Linked DNA regions of Homo sapiens. The protein of the gene in region 1 purifies or fractionates together with the protein of each later gene. This does not show direct contact. Each region holds a gene or a part of one and is shown on either strand. Other genes may lie near its edges. The genes, in order: BEND6 and RBPJ.

Region 1 (4,514 bases):
CATTTTGGCTTTGAGGCTAAGCTGTGTTCTTCAATCTGACTTTATCTTGAATAGAGTTAACACAATATTTTAATTTCCTTATGGTTCCTTGTGTCTATTCCCAATTTGGTTGAGAATCTAAAGGGAAGAAGGGCTATATAATGGACCATCTTCTACATACGTGGTATCAAACTCTCTTAGCTATCTTTCCCAACTATTTTGTCTTCTTTTGGGTGACAATGATAACTTACTCTCATAAAAAAAGTCAACAAATTATACATACTTTTCCATTATGAATTTTCATTTTTTTGTATGAAAGATTTGGGCCATGGCTCTCCCCCTCCATCCCTATCCTCAAACTTAACAATTTTTTTTGTGTGTGACTTTTATACAATGTCAATTATTCTTTTTTTAAAGCAAAAACCTACCAGGAAGGCAAGGTATAATTTCTACTAAATTAACTTCCAAAAAGCACTGCTTGGCTGATTTAGTATTTATTGAATTCCGCAATGCATTAGGCACCACATAAACACACAGACAGAAGCAATTAATACTATGTATGCTGTTATTTGGAAAAAATGATAAATTAGCAACAAACAAATCAGAAAATAACAATGGAACTAAATACTAAATTCTTTCAAGGATTTGGTTTGTTTATTATTAGTATCTTTAAGACAACTGATGGAAAGAACAGAAATGAATGCATCTAAAAAGAAATATCTATAATCCTATTGCATGGCAGTTAAGCATTTGCCTGCCAAGAGAGATAAATGATGTTCTTGTGTGCACTTGAAACTTATAAATGGCTGCAGCAAGACGCAGGATGATAACAGTTGTGCTAAAGTCATAGCTCAGAAAACCATAATAGCTATTTAGTTGCTTTTTGTTGTTAAAAAAATATAGCGTTTGGGGCAATTTGAATACTATTCTGTGTGTCTTTGACATGTTTCTGTTCAAGGATACGTAGGCTATTTCAGCTCACTTACAAATTTCAGTCAATGAGAAGCATAAAGATGACCTTCCAAAATTCTGTTAGTTATTTCCCCCAATGTCTGCACACGGTTAGTTCAGTTTTGTTGTTTAAAATTACTCCACCATGCCATTGTTGAGTCAATGCGGTGGAGAATTCTTCCTTTCCTGATGTGCCACACATTGCAAACTCTCAGGATTTTCTTCAATAACCTCTGCATAATTGTTGAATAGTTTCTCACTGCAGTGGGCTGCGGTATCAAGAAACCTTTAGCCATATGCACATGATGTAGTGCTACCTGTCACCCACTCTGAGTGCTAGAGACCCATGAAGCCTATCCTGGAATTCAGTGCAGCCTACATGCTGCCATTCAAAATTCCCACCTTATGCAGTGTCTCCAAGCAAGGGCCCTTCTGAGTTCAATCCAAAACAACTGAATGAATGAGATGCAACATGTCAACAATTCGAATGTTTATTTTGTTTAAGGAAACCAGCTGTAAACAAAACGTATCTGTTGTTTTCCATGCTTATGAATCTGGCACTAAGAGACTGCATTAACCAATGCCTTTTTAGGTTTAATACTTACACACGGTAATATGTTACTGGCTTTAAGGACATCAATGATTAAGCTTTCATGCAGAGCTGTACGGTTTTGTATAGTTGGAAAACAACACTGATTTTGAGATCACTACAAGCAAATAAAACTTTTATTCCTCCCAATTATTTACCTGCTTTTCAAATTTTTATAAATTTTTATGACACAATTTCTTCAGTCTATTAAATATTCCAAAAAAGAGGCTAATACAGTTGTTATAAGAAACTCCGCAAATGCAGTCAAGTGTTACCTTGTCACTATAATTAAAGTTTTCTTATGCGAGTAAATGAAACAAACAATCCAGCCCCACACAGGGAAAGCCAGCATTGCCTTGGGGGCAGCAGAACGCGGCACAGCACCGCCCGCCAAGGCCGCAAGATGCCGCAGAATGACTGCTGCAGCAGCCGCTTCCTGGCCAGGTGGCCGTGGCCGTCCGCAGAAAGGCACACTGCAGCGCTCTCGCTATACCTTCCGTGCTGGCATTGCATCAGTGTTAAATCCCCTGGCCACCAACTGCCATATACTTTTTGCTGGTTATGAAGAAACGTGGGGAGGGGACAAAGGGGAGACAGAGTGTGCCTGCAAGTGTGAGAGATCACTATTGCCTCACACTCCCTAAAAAATTTCTCCCCCAAATGTTTATAAGCCAAGTACCAACTTACTTCATCTGCCAGGTCCCTAAATCTGAAATCGCCTTGCCCTTCAAATGCACTAAATGAGTCAGGGTTTTAGGGCAAACCCAGGGATACAAGAAGATCGAAAGTGCCCAATTCTTAGCTGCGAGATAAGCACCAAGTTTGGGGTGGAAGAGTTCACCTCTGCCGACCAGAGCGTACTACCCCGGAGCGCTCCTAGTTTAGAGAGGCTTGGAGAGGAGTGGGCCTCCCGTTCCTGGAGTATCCCAATTCCCAGGGAAGGCCCTTCCCGGCGCTCGCGCTTCAGAGTGCGAGGAAACCCCCACAAGCAATAGCTCACCCGGCTGCATTCTTCAAAGCCCCAACCTCGGGGCGGGGCGCAGGGAGGTGGGAGGTGGAGGGTAGCACCGCCGGGAGGCTCCTGTCAGCGCCTCTCGGTTTTCCCCCTGGCTCCTTGGCGCCCCCTGACGACGGGCTCCGCAGCAATTTGGCCGAGGGAGGCTGGATAGGCGGAAGCTCCGGGTGTCCGGGAAGCTAGAGGCACCCGGCCAATGCACCCGCGGACGGCGCGGACTGGCGGGCGGCCCCGCGGGAGGGCGCTGGGCTCTCAGGCCCGGGTGCAGCCCGCGGACGCCGCCGAAACCGCCGCAGCCATGTCCGCGCGCCCGCGCTGCCGCAGCCTGGCCGTGATGTCATCAGCCGAGCCCCCGCCGCGGCGCCCCATTCCCGCCCCCCGCAGGCTGCCGCGGCTGCAGCCTGAGCGCCGCGTCCCCGCCCCGACCCACGTGCGCCCGGCTTCTGGGATGCTGAGGTCGGCGGCGGCCGCAGGACGATGCGCGGGGCCCGGGCGGCCGCGGCGGCGGCGCTGCTCCTCCCCACTCGCCGCGTCCCCGGCGGGGCTGCGCCCGGGGGCTGCGCACGGACGGGGGCGGGGGCGCCTGGGGAGGGAGGGGAGAGGATCCCAGCCGCCGAGTCGCAGCCTCGTCGCTGTCTGCTGAGTCATGGCAAGCGCTCCCCGCAGCCCTGGATCACTCGCGTAGCGCGGCTGGCGCGGGGTGCGCAGCCATTGGGCTGGGCGCGGGGCCGCGAGCGCCAGGCATGACGCGCTGAGCCGCGCTCACCCGTGCCCGCCGTCCCGGCGTGCGCCCAGCGCGGGTGCCTGTGCCGCCGCCCTCCAGCCCCGCCGTCGAGTCGCCCTCGCCTCGCCCGCACCATGATCGCCGCGGCTTTCCTCGTCTTGCTGAGACCCTACAGCATCCAATGTGCCCTCTTCCTCTTGTTGCTTCTGCTGGGCACCATCGCCACCATCGTCTTCTTCTGCTGCTGGCACCGCAAGCTCCAGAAAGGGAGGCATCCGATGAAATCGGTCTTCTCGGGTCGTTCAAGAAGCCGAGGTAAGACACGCCGCGACGGGTTTCTGCGGGCTACCAGGAACAATTAAGCCGATTTGGAGAGTGAAGCGCGGCTCGCTCCCTTCTCCTCGGCTGCCCCTAGCCCCATCATTGCCCACTCCCCAGGCTGAGTGCGTTTCTTTAACGCCCCTTGCCCTTTTTGCCGTCACCTCCGCCCTCCAGTCTCCCAGGTTTGAATAACCACGGCGATGCCGAGGGCAGGGAGGGGAGGAAAGAACTCAAATTTTTAGTCAGTTTGCTAAAGCCTTAAGGGTAATTTGAGCGTAGTCCGGGGCTGCGCCAGCCTCGCCTTCACGCATCCTTCGCTGGAGCGTAGGGGTAAGAAAGTAAGGCATGGAAACTTCGGGGCTCCCCAACTCCCCCAGAACTTTCATGCAAACTTCTCGCGGAGAAATCACGTAGAGACCGATGGCCCCAGGACTCCTCCTCCCTCCCCCAGGATGTCCCACCGAATTCCAGGAGTCTGCGATGTGCTTTCCCAACCCTGGTCTCCCAGGTAAGTCATGAGTCACTCGGTAGGTGAAGAACAAGGAGTTAAATGAAGTCTCATTTATCTCTTTTCTCCCCAGATGCTGTTTTGAGATCGCACCACTTTCGTTCTGAGGTAATTTATTTAGCGCGCACGCTCAAGGTCAGAAGAAGTTCTCTTTCCTGAGTACCAATATTAATTATATGCGTGTTAAGAAACCAGTAGGACACTGAATGACGAACATGCTGTCCCCTAGCCGAAAGTGGCATGTTTCCTTTTAAGTGATTTCATATTAGTGCCCAGCGAACGGTTTTAGCAAATTTCTTGTGTAGTGGAGCTGTTGTACAAGAGGGGAAAAGGCAAACCCTAAAAGTGCTGCAGACCTTAAAAAACTTAGCCACAGGGTGGATGTCACTTGAGTTTACAGTTTATATTTTGCTGGTGGAAGTGTTTT
Region 2 (3,520 bases), on another chromosome or scaffold:
ACATGCTTTTGCGGACATTTTCCTCATTCTACCATTAAGGGCACCATCTACCAACTGGTAGCAAATACTTCCCATATTTTTTGTCACTTGCCAACAAGGCAGAAAATACCCTGCTGAATGAAATCACTGGGAACATTCCAAGTTCAAAATAAAATGTTTAACTTACACATAATACAAGTTATGTACAAGATTAGGAGGGGGGAAAAACCTGAACAAATCCTGGAACACACCTATGTATTTACGTCATGGGAAAAGGGGAGAGAACACTTCAAATATCAACAAGTTCTGCGCCATTAACTCATTAATAGCTAAATGGCCACACCAAATTGCATGTGAATGTTAGAACCTCTCAGATAACCACAATAAGTCCATATTTTTTTTTAAAAAAAGGAAAACACAGAAATAACTACCAACAGTGTCTGAGAAGAGAGACTAAGTTAACATACATTGCATGTATTGCAGGCAAGGCAGAGGCATTTTTTTAAAGCTTTTGCACAGACTTCATATAATCTTAAAAAAAATATGCAGGCCTTTGCAAGATTTGACTTGCTGAAATCCAAACAATTTTGACTCATGAAAAGTCATAAGACTTCAGCTGAAAAAAAAGAAAAAAGTTCCAGCCTTAGACCAAAAAAAAAAAACCTGGAAGAGTATGATAGATTAAACAAGGATGGTCAGGCTTGGAACCTGAATGTATTTTAGAGCAAAAGCTCAAAGGTGGGTGGGGAAGAGAACAACCTATTTGGTAACAAGGTGTACTATAATACCGTGATATAAAAAAAGGTATGGTGAAAATGTACCTTTTACTAAAGCTTATACAATATACAAGTTCCTTGGTCCATAAAAACTATGTTAGATTTGTGTCTTCTAGTTTGTTCAACTTGTATTCCAGCCACATTATTTACTTCTTGCCCATTTAAACAAAACCAAACAAAAACCAACCAACCAACCAACAAAACAGCTGAAAAACTTGATTTCCAATATTTATACATTTTGATTTTTTTTTCTTTTTTTTTTTTTTTTTTTTTTTTTTTACTGTGGCTTCTGCATTTCAAATCAGCACTTGCAGGGAGACAACGGGGTTTTTGAATAGTATCACCTGGTATGAAAAGTTTTCCCAAGAAACCACAAACGATTGTTCATTTTTTCTCCTTTTTTGTTAACTTTTTGCCACACTCAAGTCAGTTTAAGTCCTAGCAAAAAGACGGTAGTTAGGATACCACTGTGGCTGTAGATGATGTGACACTGGTTGAATTTGTGCTGGCGTTTGTGTAACTTCCCTCGCTGTTTGTGTTTGATTCGTTAGGGGGCACCTGGCTTGAATTGGCTCGAAGGATTGCTCCTGCTGCACTGCAATGTGGCCGCGGCCCTGGTTCTGGTGTGTAGGTAAAGGTAAGGCTGGTGGAATAAATGATTCCATCATTTCGGACCAAAGTTACTGGAACCTGGACTGGTTGCCGGACCCATCTCCAACCTTCTCGGAATGCAGAAATGTCTGGGACGACACAGAGCATACTCTCTCCACACCTGAGGAGGAAATAGAAATCACTTAAAAACACTTTAAAAAGCAAAGTACATGTTAAAAATGAGACTTAACACAAGGTTGTTTAATACATTACAATCAGTGCCAGGAAAGAATCTCCTGTACCCACACCCCTCACAACCTCTGGATGATGCAAAAAGTTTTATCAAGTACCTGTACATAGTTTCAGCTTCTACATCCCCAAACCACACTCGTAAATTTGGAGTGAAATTCTGTCCTGTAAGTTCAAGCATTGCTACGTCCCCACCGCCATTCAACTGCAATTCACAGAAAATCACAACACTGAGAAAACTTTTCATTTTTCATTAAAGTACACAAATTAGATTCTCATTCAACTTTCATTTGTTTTTTTTAAAAAAGGGCAATTAAAATGTTTTTTATTACAAAGCTAGCTAAAAACATTTCAAGATAACATACAAGTTTATTTACATTTAAATTTTCTGGCAAGTACGCTCCTCCTAATTTTGTTTTTTTTTCTTTAAATCAACAAATGGTGTATATAAAAATCCCCTAATCAGACGATTGGAGAAAAATCAAAACTCCCATGAAATGAAATGATGCCAGGTCACAGCTGAGAGTAGCTGCAAAGAGCTGAAGGCCAACTTGGACTAGGCGTTCTCACCTGAAGGCTCTCTACCACAGGCACAGGAGTGACTGGGGCAAGGACAGGGCCCATTCCCTCATAAAATGTATACTCTGCCTTATCTGTGCTAATGATTGTCCAGGAAGCGCCATCATTTATCATCTCTTTATTTGGTTCTTTTGGACATGGAGTGGCCTAATAAAGAAAGAAGTTTAGAAACTAAGTTTTATACAGTTTGTATTAATAGGATAAGAAAATTTTACCAAGTAACCCTCAGACAAGAGTTAATAAGAAGATAACTCAGTAAAAACTTATAAACTTTCTAAAGTATGGTGCTTTGCCAATCCCTACATAAACACAAACAGAATGCTAATACAGAAACCCCATAGACAGCAGTTTTTCTTATAATACAAACTATTTCAGTGACATATTAAATAATAATACCTTTCAGAACAACCATTATGAGTATACCAATGCAGGTACAATTTCATTAACAGCAGATCAATATCTGTGATGTAAATGGCTGTTTAAAACTCTTCAAGGACTCCTAAGAAAGACAATGGGACTCCTCATGCTTAGGCAACAGCTAGAAGCTTATGCATGTTCCATGGGAGGGAATCAAGATGGGAAGGCAAAGCCCCTACCCCTACCTTAACACACCTAGACCAGGGACTCAGCATGCCCATCAGTGTGTATGGGCATCTCTCTGCAAAGGAGTTTCACATGAAACCATAACTGTCTTATTAAATCATCTGCCCATGTCATAACCTCATGAAAGCCTTCTGAGTAAATGTAAAACATTAGCTTTCAAAGCATGTCATCATTACTATCTTCGGAAACCACGACATAAATCTGATGAGATTTTGAGCCTTCACCCAGAAAAATGCTTTGTCTATACAATGTTTGCACACAATTTCAGAGGATTCAATGAGCACTGAAAATCTATTTTTGGATATCCTGAGGGGCTCTTTGTTCTTCAATTAAGAACCCTGGAACTAGATGTTAACTGTTTTCTCTGAGAACATTTTCATAATTTTGAGTTCTTCCTTGAGGAAGGATTGCTTGCATGTCTGAGGATTGTGTGTTAAGGATGCTCATACCTGAGATAAATATCTGTGTATAGCTTCATGTATTTGTATATAATTAACAGCAAATGAAAATTTCATATTTTTGCAAGCTGCTAACCTCACAGTTTGTACATTTTAGATTTCACCAGTAATTTAAAAACATACCTGAAATTGAATTATTCTTTCTTGAGAAAGGCACAAATACATTCTTTCTGTATCCTTAAGGTAAAATGCACATTTATGGAGTTGTGACACAGGATCATCTGCATCCAATAATGCGGTCTGCTTATCAACTTTCCTAATTATCTATATTTAACAATTAAGAAA

The links.
Region 2: the proteins of BEND6 (region 1) and RBPJ purify together in Homo sapiens (pull-down; one study listed by IntAct). This does not show direct contact.

Annotation. Positions count from the first base shown.
Region 1 is NC_000006.12:56,953,466-56,957,979, reverse strand, and holds the start of BEND6 (BEN domain-containing protein 6), read right to left. Parts: upstream 2,874-4,514; 5' UTR 2,520-2,873; intron 1-2,519. Other genes in the region: DST (dystonin), read left to right, coding at 3,393-3,573, 4,161-4,195. UniProt on the Homo sapiens protein: Acts as a corepressor of recombining binding protein suppressor hairless (RBPJ) and inhibits Notch signaling in neural stem cells, thereby opposing their self-renewal and promoting neurogenesis.
Region 2 is NC_000004.12:26,428,699-26,432,218, reverse strand, and holds part of RBPJ (recombining binding protein suppressor of hairless), read right to left. Parts: intron 3,500-3,520; coding exon 3,359-3,499; intron 2,322-3,358; coding exon 2,166-2,321; intron 1,801-2,165; coding exon 1,697-1,800; intron 1,528-1,696; coding exon 1,212-1,527; 3' UTR 1-1,211. UniProt on the Homo sapiens protein: Transcriptional regulator that plays a central role in Notch signaling, a signaling pathway involved in cell-cell communication that regulates a broad spectrum of cell-fate determinations.